3 separate regions of the Homo sapiens genome follow, and regions 1 and 3 are each linked to region 2. Evidence: fine-mapped expression QTL. A gene starts in region 2. Each other region holds a variant in brackets. All regions are shown on one strand. Distances are from middle to middle.

Region 1 (4,235 bases), 62 kb after region 2:
AGTCTCAAATGTCAGGCTGCAGTGCCTAAAGTAAATCCAGCAGATGATGGGGAGCCATTGTGTATTTCTGAGCAGGGGAGAGACATTGTGAGAGTTTTTCTTTTTACAAAAATGAATCTGGCAAGACTCTGGGAAGACCAACCAGGAGTTAAGAATACTAGTTAGCAGACATCTGCACTTGTCTAAGAAGAAACCCTGAAATCTTGAATTGGAATGGTTGTGATAGGAAATAAAAAGAGTGAAAGAATGCAAAAGAGGCTGTAAAGCAACATTTTGCATGACCGTGGACTTGAATGAAGAGGAAAGGAGAGGGTAAAAAAATCAAAGCTATTGGGCTGGGTGCAGTGGCTCACGCCTGTAATCCCAGCACTTTGGGAGGCCTAGGTGGGCAGAGCACAAGGTCAAAAGATCGAGACCATTCTGGCCAACAAGGTGAAACCCCGTCTCTACTAAAAACACAAAAATTAGCTGGGCGTGGTGGCGTGCACCTGTAGTCCCAGCTACTGGGGAGGCTGAGGCAGGAGAATCGCTTGAACCCGGGAGGCAGAGGTTGCAGTGAGCCGAGATGGCACCACTGCACTACAGACTGGCCACAGAGCAAGACTCTGTCTCAAAAAAAAAAAAAAAAATTGAATCTATTTTGAGGATTTCAGCTTGGCTTGACTGGGGGGAAGAGTGATCCCTTTCACAGAAACAGGGAATGAACAAAAGGTAATGAACCCTCTCTGCCCCTTCCACACCCCCTCCTAGCTGAGAGTGCCAAGGGAGAAATTGATTGTTATATGGATTGTCCTCTCCTTTTTAAAAATAGGAACACGGCTGGGCATGATGGCTCATGCCTGTAATCTCAGCACTTTGGGAGGCTGAGGCAGGTGGATCGCCTGAGGTCAGGAGTTCAAGACCAGCCTGGTCAACATGGTGAAACCCATCTCTAGTAAAAAATACAAAAAAAAATTAGCCAGGCATGGTGGCAGGCACCTGTAATCCCAGCTACTAGGGAGGCTGAGGCAGGAGAATTGCTTGAACCTGGGAGGGAGAGGGAGTGAGCTGGACTGCACTCCAGCCCGGGTGACAGAGCGAAACTCCATCTCAAAAAAAGAAAAAAAAAAAAGGAACAGAAAGTAGGTCCCCAAGGTATGTAAACTTAAAGTTCTATAGCTTCCTCTCCACACCTCACATCTTTTTGCATCTCTAACCTTGCCAAGGATAACTAAAGTTTGGCTGTATTTTTTCATTTCTCCCTGAAATATTTTCAATAGAATCATTTCTGAAACCCATTCCAACCCCCCATACAGCACAAACAACGAGGAAACAGAAGATTCACCAAACATTTATGAACAGCCAGCTGTTATAAAGACAAGGGACCAATCTGAAAAATCAGAATAAAGTCTCCTTGTTAAAGCTGCTGCAAGAAACAGGCAAGCAAAACTTAGAACATTTTTAATTTGTAATTTTTGCTTAAAGTTTTGGTAAGATGTTGTATCATGGTAATTTGTCAGCAGTTCTAAAAGGGAACCATTTGTGTTCAGGAAAGATAGCTTAGAAGTGCAAAACATAGTTCCAGATTTTAAAACACAGTGAATGCAGTAACAGCCAACTTAAACTCTGCAAAATGCCAAATTGGTGAATTAACAGACAAGTTTGAATTGTTTCAAAACTCAGAGGAGATGATAAAAAGATAAAAACAAAAAAAAAGGCAAGAATATGGAAGAGAGAGAGAGGAGATTCAAAAGACATGAAAAGAATTCTAGAGGAGATGGCTGGGCGTGGTGTCTCACACATGTAACCCCAGCACTTTGGGAGGCCGAGGAGGGCAGATCATTTGAGGTCAGGAGCTCAAGACCAGCCTGGTCAACATAGTGAAACCCTGTCTCTACTAAAAACACAAAAATTCGCTGGGGGTGGTGGCACAGCCCTGTAATCCCAGCTACTCAGGAGGCTGAGGCAGGAGAATCGCTTGAACCCAGGAGGCGGAGGTTGCAGTGAGCTGAGATCGCGCCATTGCACTCCAGCCTGGGTGACAGAGTGAGACTTTCTCTCAAAAAAAAAAAAAAAAAAAAAATATTCTAGAGGAGAGAAAAAATTACTCCAGCCAACATTTATTAAATGTTTAGTAAGTGCTAGGCATTTAATTATATTAACACTTGCAGCAGCCTATCGAGGGAAATCACTGTCATCATTCACATTTGCAGATAAGGAAACTAATGTTTAGAAAGTTAACCATTTTCTTCAGTAGTAAACAGCTAATTAAAGGAGAGGCTAAGTCCCGAACCTAGCATCTGTTTCCCAAAAAGTAGACAAACCCTCTGAATAAGGGCCTCTTTTCTTAGAAAGCCCTCTGCATGTGTTTGGGTAACTCCAATGTCCACAGAGGAACCTGCTTTCTCATTCCTCTCTCAAATCACACTTACCTGCTGTCTCCCTTCTTCCCCCAGGCACCGATGAAGACGCCATTATTAGCGTCCTTGCCTACCGCAACACCGCCCAGCGCCAGGAGATCAGGACAGCCTACAAGAGCACCATCGGCAGGGTAGGCCACAGTCTTTCCTGCTCTGTCTGGCTGACTTCGCAGCAACAGGAAGCAGGGCCTCTTCCTGATCTAGGTTCCCGAAGTGACCTTGTGTTTTAAAAGATCGATCCTTTGTCTTGTTTAAAGATGTTCTTGAGGCCAGGTGTGGTGGGTCACACCTGTAATCCCAGCACTTTGGGAG[A/G]CCGAGGTGGGTGGATCACTTGAGGCCAGGAGTTTGAGACCAACCTGGCCAACATGGTGAAACCCCATCTCTCCTTAAAAAATACAAAAATTAGCCGGGCATGGTGCTGAGCACCTGTAATCCTAGCTACTTTGTAGGTTGAGGCAGGAGAATTGCTTGAACCAGGAGGTGGAGGTTGCAGTGAGCCAAGATCATGCCACTTCACTCCAGCCTGGGCAACAGAGACAGACTCCATCTCAAAAAAAAAAAAAAAAAAAAAAAAAAGAATAGCGATTCAGCTCCTTCTTCGTCAATTGATCTTAAACAAGTTCTTAAACTCTCTGACCCATTCCAGGAGGAAATGTGAATAAACATCTTTAGAATTTGGTCCATTTTCCAAATAATTATATTTGGAAACTATATCTCAGGAATTGAGCCTTAAGAAATAGTCATGAATGATCACAAAGATACAACTAAATGCCTTATGTATATAACAGTAGAAAAATAGAAACAGGTGACTAGTTAAAGAAATTAGGCTGGGTGTGGTGGCTCACACCTGTAATCCTAGCACTTTGGGAGGCCGAGGCGAGTGGATCACTTGAGGTCAGGAGTTCGAGACCAGCCTGACCAACATGGTGAAACCCCGTCTCTACTAAAAATACAAAAAAATTAGCTGGGCATGGTGGTGGGCACCTGTAATCCCAGCTACTTGGGAGACTGAGGCAGGAGAATCGCTTGAATCCAGGAGGCGGAGTCTGCAGTGAGTCAAGATCGTGCCACTGCGCTCCAGCCTAGGCAACAGAGCAAGACTCCATCTAAAAAAAAAAAAAAAAGAAATTATGTTGCACCTATCTATAGAAATCTCCACAGCTGCTAAAAAGGTTATCAGTGAATATTGACTTGGAAGTATATTCAAGACATATTGTTAAGTAGGCAAATACATTTACATCGGTGTCTACAAACATATTCACCTCAAAGTTCCTTTACCTCTTAAATTTTTTAGGACTTTTGGTTTTGTGGGTTATATCTTTTGATATTTGCCCTATTAGAAACTAAAACTGAGGGCATTTAAAAATAGATATTTGTTAACTTAGTAAAAATAATAAGTATATTGTATGTTACTGTAAATAACATTTTAATGAAAAATAGCTATATATCCCAAAACGAAAAAACATTTAGTGAGAAGATTGGCATTGTTTTACATTTTGCAGATCTCTTTAATGTCTGGCTTAATGGAAGACAGATGGCTTCTCATATCTATTTCTACTTCAATTTGTTATGATATGTGGTTTTGGTTGGGGTATATGAAGAAAATCTGGCTTGTACAGATATGTACTTGAAAATGGGGGGAGTATTTGAACAGACAGTTGTTGATGCACAGACAATGTCAAATAGCCTTAGGAAAACCCCACTGTATGCTTGTGGAAGAATGACAGTGAAAAGGCAAATAACATCTGAGTGTTATTCTGAGGATAGTTTTGACTTGCAGGCCCCTTGAAAGGGTCTTGGAGACCCCAGACATCCCTGGACCACACCTGGAGAGTA
Region 2 (4,241 bases):
ATTTTTTTCATGTAGCTTAATTTTTTCTTTCTTTTTCTTTTTCTTTTTTAGGGACAGGTTTTCGCCATGTAGCCCAGGATAATCTCCCAAACTCCTAGCCTCAAGCAACCACCTGGGCCTCCCAAAGTGTTGGGATTACAGTCTGAGCCACCTCACCTGGCCTAATTGTTGCTTGTAAGGGATGCAGTGTCTCTCTAATCTTGCTTAAGAAATGAATTATCTGTATTTCATTTTTTTTCCTACTGTTTGACCTTTAATTTTTTGTTTTGTTTTGTTTTTGTTTTTGTTTTTGTTTTGAGACAAGGTCTCACCCTGTCGCCCAGGCTGGAGTGCAGTGGTGCAGTCATAGCTCACAGCAACATTGAACTCCTGGGTTTAGAGTGATCCTCCTGCTTCAGCCTGGCTAGTAGCTGGGACTACAGGCGTGGCTATGCACCCGGCTAATTATTTATTTATTTTTTGTTTTCTTTTCTTTTTTTCTTTCTTTTTCTTTTCTTTCTTCCTCTTTTTTTTTTTTTTTTTTTTTAGACAATGTCTCACTCTGTCGCCCAGGCTGGCGTGCAGTGGCGCAATCTCAGCTTACTGAGCCTCTGCCTCCCGGGCTTGGGTGTTTATCCCACCTCATCCGACTGAATAGCTGGGACTACAGGCGCATGCCACCACACCCGGCTATATATATGTTTTTTTTTTTTTTTTTTTTGAGATGGGATTTCACCACATTGGCCAGGCTTATCTCGAACTCCTGGGCTAAAGTGATCCACTTGCCCTGGCCTCCCAAAGTGCTGGGATTACAGGCATGAGCCACTGTGCCCAGCCTTAATTTTTTAAGTTATCATATGCAGATAAAAGAGGCAGAACCAGTTTTAGTATCCAAATCAGTCTGATCCTAAAACCCGTGCTCTAAACCATATTAAACCACCTTTTAAAATTACATCTTAATGAAATAATTTAATGTTACCTCTCCAGCTTTAAGGGTGCCATTAACCACTTAGATTTTGATGTGTCGGATGGAAAACACTCCCCAAACGGGCTATTCTCTGTTTTTTAAAAAAACTGAATTTGCCTATAGACTCAACGGATTCATTCTGCAAGCATTCACTACGTGGCGAAATCGGTGCTGGGCATGGGTGCAAAGACGACCTAGCCCTAGTTGGTGTCTTCAAGAGGCTGCGTCCAGCAGGGGAAGCAGATATGAAAACACAGAACTATTACAAGGGATGAGCGCCGCGCCAAGCCGAACCTGGGAGCTACGGACAGTGTCTAAACTTTAGTCACTCACAGGAGTACAAAGATCCGGGGCTGCTCCTAACTCCTACTCCAAAGCTTTCCTGGCCTGCTGGGCGCACAGGGAAGAGGGAAGTGCTGGAAACTTTTGGGAATGTGTGTTTTCATGTGAAAGAGGGGAATGAAATGTATCCTTCAGATTTCACTTTCTACTTTTCCGGCCACGGGCTCGGCACGACCTGCCGTTGGGAGACGAACGGTTTCCCGAGGTGGGGGGAAGCGCGGATTTGCCGCGGGACTCCGGCTTGGCGCGGAGCTGGGCGCGGCAGGCGCAGGGAGGAACTGGCGAGGTGGCCCGGGCTCGGCCCTCCGAGGGTGTGGAGCGCCCGGGAAACGGGACCCCAAGAATCCAACTGCTCCCACCCTGCGCGGCCAGGAGCGGGGCTGGCGATACTGGGGACACTGTCCAATCCGGGCAGGGGGCGAGGCCGGGGGACCGGGCGGGCCTGGGGAGCAGGCACGTGTGGAGGGCGGACCCGCCGGGGGTCGAGGCCTGCCTCTCCGAGAGCTCCTGGCGCGGCCGTCCCGGCCCGGGGCCCCAGGTGCGCTTCCCCTAGAGAGGGATTTTCCGGTCTCGTGGGCAGAGGAACAACCAGGAACTTGGGCTCAGTCTCCACCCCACAGTGGGGCGGATCCGTCCCGGATAAGACCCGCTGTCTGGCCCTGAGTAGGGTGTGACCTCCGCAGCCGCAGAGGAGGAGCGCAGCCCGGCCTCGGTACGAGGGGTAAAGGGGCTCCGGGCCGGGGGTCCTGGGCTCAGGGAACGGGGAGCGTGGCCCGGGAGCGTCTCGCGGGGATGCCCGGCTCCGCGCTGCACCCCAGAGTGGGTGCTCGCCGCCGGCTTGCGGGCAAGCCCGGGCGGCCACAGGGTGGAGGGGGCCAGCGGGCCCTGGACTCGCTCCGGGTGGGCGAGAGGGAGGCGAGCGCGGTGCTTAACCGCTGGCACCATCCAGGACATCCAGGGCCGCTTACACGGCTCAGGACGCGGGTCAGAGACCACGGCAGTTATTTATTCAGTCCATGTGCTAGGCTTTGCATCAAAAAGAAAGGACCGAGATAATCTTGCCTGTAGCTAACTCCTCCTAACACCTCTTACAGTTTACTTTTTAATTCTTTACTCCATTTAAGAAACTTACTCCTTTCTCCTAGATCCTTACCACTTTCTTACCTTCTCGTGTGTCTAATGCCCTCGGCACAGTGCCCGGCACATCGGAGTCTGATTATTATAGGGTCCATGACTTGAGTTGGCTGGTGGCGCAGTCTCAGCATTTTGTCATGACTTTGACCAGCTGGAGACTTTGGTGCCAAGGAGGAAGGCTTCTCAACCATTTACCGGCAGAAGTGACCCCCGGGGCAATGCAAGTCTTCTGAGCTGACAGAGCAGAGTGGGTCCTGCATAACTCGTGCTTTACATGGAACTGGGCATCTGCTCTCTCCTGCTGACAGTGGGAAGGATAGATAAGGTGTCCCTCTCCAAGTTATCCATTCTCCTGCCCACCAGTCCATGACACCCCACCACCCCCTTCCACTCCCTACTGTTTGCCCTTTAATTTTTTGTTTTGTTTTGTTTTGAGACGAGGTCTCACTCCTGTAGCCCAGGCTGGAGTGCAGTGGCTGGATACAGTTCACTCTGCCTCCCAGGCTCAGGTGTTTCACCCACCTCAACCTCCTGAGTAGCTGAGACTACAGGTGCATGCCACCACGTGCCTATAGTCTCAGCTATTCAGGAGGTAACTGGTAACTCTATTGATAACCAAACCCTAGATTTTTTTTTTTGAGATGGAGTCTTGCTCTGTTGCCCAGGCTGGAGCGCAGTGATATGATCTCTGCTCACTGCAACCTCCGCCTTCTGGGTTCAAGAGATTCTCCTGCCTCAGCCTCCCGAGTAGCTGGGACTACAGGCGTGTGCCAACACGCCTGGCTAATTTTTGTATTTTTAGTAGAGATGGGGTTTTAACATGTTGGTCAGGCTGGTCTTGAACTCCTGACCTCAGGTGATCCACCTGCCTTAGCCTCCCAAAGTGCTGGGATTACAGGCATGAGCCACCGTGCCCAGCGGCCAAACCCTAGGTTTTTAGTTGCCAGGGAATTCTCAGACACAGGTGGAAGAGCAAGTAGGAGAGGAAGTGGACAGGGATAAGAAAACGGATAACCCCATGACCCAAGAGCTGCTGACTCTCCAGAGCCCTATCAGGCCAAGGCCATCCTCATTCAGCTCATGTCAGATTTCTGTTGATTGAAGATAGAGACACAAGTACACCCCTGCCCCCACCCACACATAGACAGGCACAGACACACAACTACTGGATCAAGGGCTTCTGTGAATTTCCCTCCTAGATGTTCTTGCATTTGGTTAGGGATAATGTTTCTCTGCAAGCAATTTAGAGAGTAACCCGCACAGTCAAGCCATGTACCACTCCAGGCCTTGGTGTTTAAAGGGTGAGCCTCCTGGTCATCCCCAGGCTCATGTCCAGTGGCATGTTTCTTTGTTTATGTCCAGCCACTCATTTGTTTTCCTGAGCTCATTTATTATCTGCTTTTAGACTAAGCCTGCTTTTCTCCAAGGGAGATAAAGATGAGTGGCAGGCACTGGGGATTGTGGGCAGTGTGCCAGGGAGTACCTGAAGTTCCAGAATAAACAAGGGGTGGGGAAGCCTGGGCAACATAGCAAGACCCCGTCTCTACAAAAATTTTAAAAATTACTTGGGCATGGTGACACCCACCTGTAGTCCCAGCTACTTGGGAGGCTGGGAGGGAGTTTCACTTAAGCCCAGGAGTTCAAGGCTGCAGTGAGTTATGATCACACCATTGCACTGCAGCCTGGGTAATAGAGTGAGGCCCTGTCTGAAAAACAAACAAACAAACAAACAAAAACAAGAGGAGGAGATTTTCTTTGAGTGTCATTTTTACACAAATATTTGAAATTAAAAAACACTTTTTATACTAAAACAATCACA
Region 3 (4,241 bases), 120 kb before region 2:
AAGCCCCGCAGGCCAGAATAGTTCAGTCCTGCTGGGCACTCAGCTGACCTCATGTCACTTGGGCTCTGATCCTTATGAGAGACACAGAGGATGGGAGGCAGGGTATGTTATTTTGCTTTTTAACCCAGTACCATTTAACCAAATGGAAATACCATTCCCATCTATATGACTCAAAAGATAAAGACAGACCACAGTGGAAGATGTTTTAAGAACTGGCCTGAGGAGTTTCTAGAAGAACCTGAAACACGGGATTTCCTGGGAGGACCTCCCCAATCCTCCCTCCTCCTCGCTCCTGGGTCTTGCTTTCTCTCATTTATTTTCTTCATTTCTTCCTTCCCTGTTTCTTTTTGGCTATGAATTTGCTCTTATATGAAAGAAACTGTACTCACACAGAAAGAAAGTGGAAAGCAAGAAACTGTGACAGTCAATCCTACTGCACTGGCTTCAACTCCTATACTTTTACAGCTAAATTCACTTCCCGGACTTGAAAACTTACTGGTGGGAGTTCAATGTCTGCCTTCCCCACTAGACTGTAAGCTCTAGGAGAAAAACACCTATAACTGTTTTGTTCATCATAATTTATGCAGTGCTTTCAACAGTGCCCTCATGACATGGGGCTTAAAATGTGTTTGTGGAATGACAAGTCTATATCAAAGGTTAAATACTAAAATGGTAAATTTTATGTTAAAGCTAAACATAGTGACTGGGCATGGTGGCTCATGCCTGTAATCACAGCACTTTGGGAGGTCAAGGCAGACAAATCATGTGAGCTCAGGAGTTCAAGACCAGCCTGGGCAACACGGCAAAACCCTGTCTGTACTAAAAACTGATTAGTGGGTACCACTTTCCTTTTCGGGCGATGAAAATGTTTTGGAACTAGATAGAGGTAGTGGTTGCACAACATTATGTTTAGTTTTGGTTTCTGGTTTTCTTTTAGAGATGAAGTTTGCTGTTGTCCAGGCTGAGCTTCTGGGCTCAAGTGATCCTCTCACCTCAGCCGCTTGAGTAGCAGGAATCACAGCCACCAGCCACCATGCCCAGCTGCACAACATTGTTAATGTACTAAATGCCACTGAACTGTTCACTTTAAAATGGTTAATTATGTTATGTGAATTTTGCCTCCATTTTAAAAAAAGAACGAAAAGAAAAAGGTGAAATAAACCTGATTTTGCCATTTAACAATAGAGTTCAAAGTAAAGTATATATAAAAAACTATTTTTTTTATGACTTAAGTAACCACCAGAGTACTGATGTTGGGGCCCAGGGTGTAAATCAGGGATTCTCAACCTGGACGCTCATGACTTTGGACTGTATAATTCCCTGTTATGGGGGCCATCCCCATCCCATGCACTACAGGATATTCACCAGCATCCCTGACCTCCATTCGTTTGATGCCTGTAATAGCCCTTTCCTAGGTGTGACAATCAAAAATGTCTCTAGATATTGCCAAGTGTCTCCTGGGGGGCAAAACAGCCACAATTGAGACCTACTGGTCTAAATGGAAAAAGGGCTCTCTAGCAATTATCAAAAATTTCTTCTTTTTCTATCCCTTGTATACCTACCAGTGTGACTCATTGTTTCCTGCCAATCCTACCAGCCACAAATGACCTATCTGTGAACTTCTAGCACCTGGTTATAATGCCCTTTTTCTAACCCCAAGTTCCCCCAAGCCACCCACGAGGGACCTGGACATGCTGCTTTCTGCCTGTGTCACTTGCCAGGCCACAGATTATCCAGGGGCCCTCATCCTATCCCCAGTGTATGGTAACATAGCTCCACTAGCACCTACAAGATAGAAGGATGTCCTTAAGGTATAGGTCAAGGAAAAAGCAAACCTACTGGTTTGACAAGCAGAACAGAGCCTCCCTGTGCCTAGGCCCTCATTCTCTAATCTCAGTCAAGAACAACAAAATTCCAAACCATCACACCACCCCCAAACAGGGTAACAGGTGAAATGAAAGGTTGAAAGCCCCTATCCCTAGAAGATATAAGTGAATTTTCAAGGAATTCAATTATCTCTAACTTTAAGGAACACAATCAATTCACATCGAGTTGCTTTGACATTAATCTTTCAGAAGACCCCACAAGCTTGAGAGGAGAAATGGATTCTAATCCCAATTGAACCTAGCTGTGTAGTTT[C/T]GGACAGGCCATTTAATCCTCTGGGCATAGTTTCTCCTTTGCAAGATCTGTGAGTTAGGCTGTTTGAATTCTAAGTTTAATGCATTAATTTAATACCTACTTCCTAAATACCTACTTATTAAAAGCATACAAAAAGATGAGTGAGAACCTAACCATACCCTCAAGGAGTCCAAGTTGGGTCAGGGATGAAGGGAGAACAGCTTAGAAGACTGATAAATAAATCGTTATTGTAAGATGCAGCAAATCCTAAAGAGGTATGTGCCACATGCTTGAGTGTATGAGAGTGCAAACATCAGGAACAACTAATCACATGTAAAAGAAGTGAACAGACATTCCCAGCAGCACGCTGTGCCTGCTCCTGTGAAGGGATAAAGTGAAGAGCTGGAAGCATTAGGAGTATAGAAGAGGCCACATTTAATGGAGATGCCTCTACTATTTTGGTTTGTTAACACCTAGAAAGAATATACAAGGAATAAACCATTTCCAACTCAAAGATTAGGCTTTTTGGCTGACAGAGTCATACCTCCTCCTTTATCTCGAGGCTGCTGAGCAAAGATTCAGGGAAGTGGTCCTTCATCATTCAGCAACCTCTGAGGTGAAGGGCTTCACTAAGAATTAATCATTAGTCTAGTGATAAAAAAGAACCATGAGGCAACCAACCTGACCAGGAGGGCATAAAAGTGAAAGGTAAGCAGGAGCTCCCAGCAATAAAATACAAAAAGCAAATTCAAAACCAGGTCCTGAAGATGCCTCTACAGCGACCATGCAAGGTCTTTTTTGTCACAAAGCCAAGACCCAAAGGAGAAAAAAGAATTCATGTACACATAAAATTAAATATAAGTAGAGATATAAATAAATATATAATATTCAATATACTAATATATAAGTAAAATACATGCAAAATAAAAATGGGTTCCTTTTAATAAGAGGAAGTTAAGCTGCCAAATAAATGCCATAAATTATAAATACCTAACAATAAAAACAACTTAGCTCCACAATCAAGCCAAAGGATAAATCATCCAACTTGCTCGGTCCTGCTCCTGCACCAGCCAATATCACTTGCATCACTAGCCCTCTGATGCCATATTTTCCTACGCCTCAGTAGCTTAGCGCAGGAGGTCAGAACTTTCCTTGCTCTCCTGAGTTGACTCCAAACCATCACTCCTCCACCCTCATGTAAAAATTCCTGCTCCTTTGAGCTCATGCCACGTGGCTACACTGGCTTCCACCCTGCCTTGCCTTTGTACTTCCCCCTCTGGCTCAGTCTCTAACATTCACGGATGCCTGTAGCATCTTGGCTTCCCTCCACTGCAACTCCTACCATCTTTCTGGGTGGTCTCAAAATCCACTTATTCCTAAACTGCAGCCTCCAGATTTCTTCACGACACTGACCTTTGGTCCTCTCAATGACCTACACATCCATGGCCACCCTCTAGACCTTGTCAACACAAATCTTAAACATCAGTCTCCCCCATTCTGACACACCCTCCAAGACTTCCATTCCCTTAGGCTTTCATTCTGGCCTGACCATCCAGTCCTCCATGCTCTGACTCTTCCATTTTCTTTCAATCAACCAATCAACCCCCTGCTTAGACAGGCTTGTCTCCCCATTCTGGCCCCATGGTTGACCATCTACACTGCTCCTTTGATTTCTGTGCACTCCTAGCCTCCCCTCACACCTCCCCAACCTTGAATCAATGCTAAATCCACCTGCTCTGTTCCTAACCTCAAATCACACAGCCTTACAAGACTGCCTCATGGTGTCCATCCTGGCTTGGGTCCTTTCCTTGTCCTTGGTTAGCTCCCTCTCTCATTCCCCTCGATGACTAACCCAACTCTCAGGAGTATCCTCAGCCCCATACTTACCACTATCCTCGGCAGACAACCTTGCCTCCTTACTCCAGAAAATTGAGGGTATCTGTTATGATTGCCTTCAATTCCCACCCTACCCCCAAGGCTTCCCCACTACAAACTTATCTATATCCATACAGATTCACTCATCTCCTCCTGTCTCAGAGTGTGAAATTTCCCTCTTCTTTCCCAAGGTTCAGCCTTGATCTTATTCATCCATCCACCCATTTAATCAACAAATATTTACTGTG

Which allele goes with the higher level. Positions count from the first base shown, and alleles are read on the strand shown. Sizes are in standard deviations (SD) of each study's normalised expression. Not every link is listed here.
In carriers of allele C in region 3, the expression in fetal neocortex of the gene that starts at base 1,959 in region 2 tends to be lower than with T alone (moderate effect, 0.45 SD a copy in Walker 2019).

What was found. PIP is the estimated chance that this variant, and not a neighbour inherited with it, causes the effect.
Region 1: its variant is the best candidate, but not a certain one, in a credible set for the expression of ANXA4 in whole blood (TOPMed, PIP 0.53).
Region 3: its variant is the best candidate, but not a certain one, in a credible set for the expression of ANXA4 in fetal neocortex (Walker 2019, PIP 0.77).

What each region holds. Positions count from the first base shown.
Region 1 is chr2:69,802,098-69,806,332 of GRCh38, forward strand. ANXA4 (annexin A4) reads left to right here. Exons shown (of 13, transcript NM_001153.5): 4 at 2,436-2,530. Among named protein-coding and RNA genes, the nearest start is that of SMANTIS, 5.2 kb to the left of the region's middle. The variant A/G (reference allele first, on the strand shown) is at 2,712.
Region 2 is chr2:69,740,176-69,744,416 of GRCh38, forward strand. It overlaps ANXA4 (annexin A4), which reads left to right and starts at 1,959. Exons shown (of 13, transcript NM_001153.5): 1 at 1,959-2,000. RefSeq lists silencers at 1,598-1,777, 1,988-2,227.
Region 3 is chr2:69,615,253-69,619,493 of GRCh38, forward strand. All of the region lies in intron 2 of AAK1 (AP2 associated kinase 1), which reads right to left. Among named protein-coding and RNA genes, the nearest start is that of AAK1, 26 kb to the right of the region's middle. The variant C/T (reference allele first, on the strand shown) is at 2,140.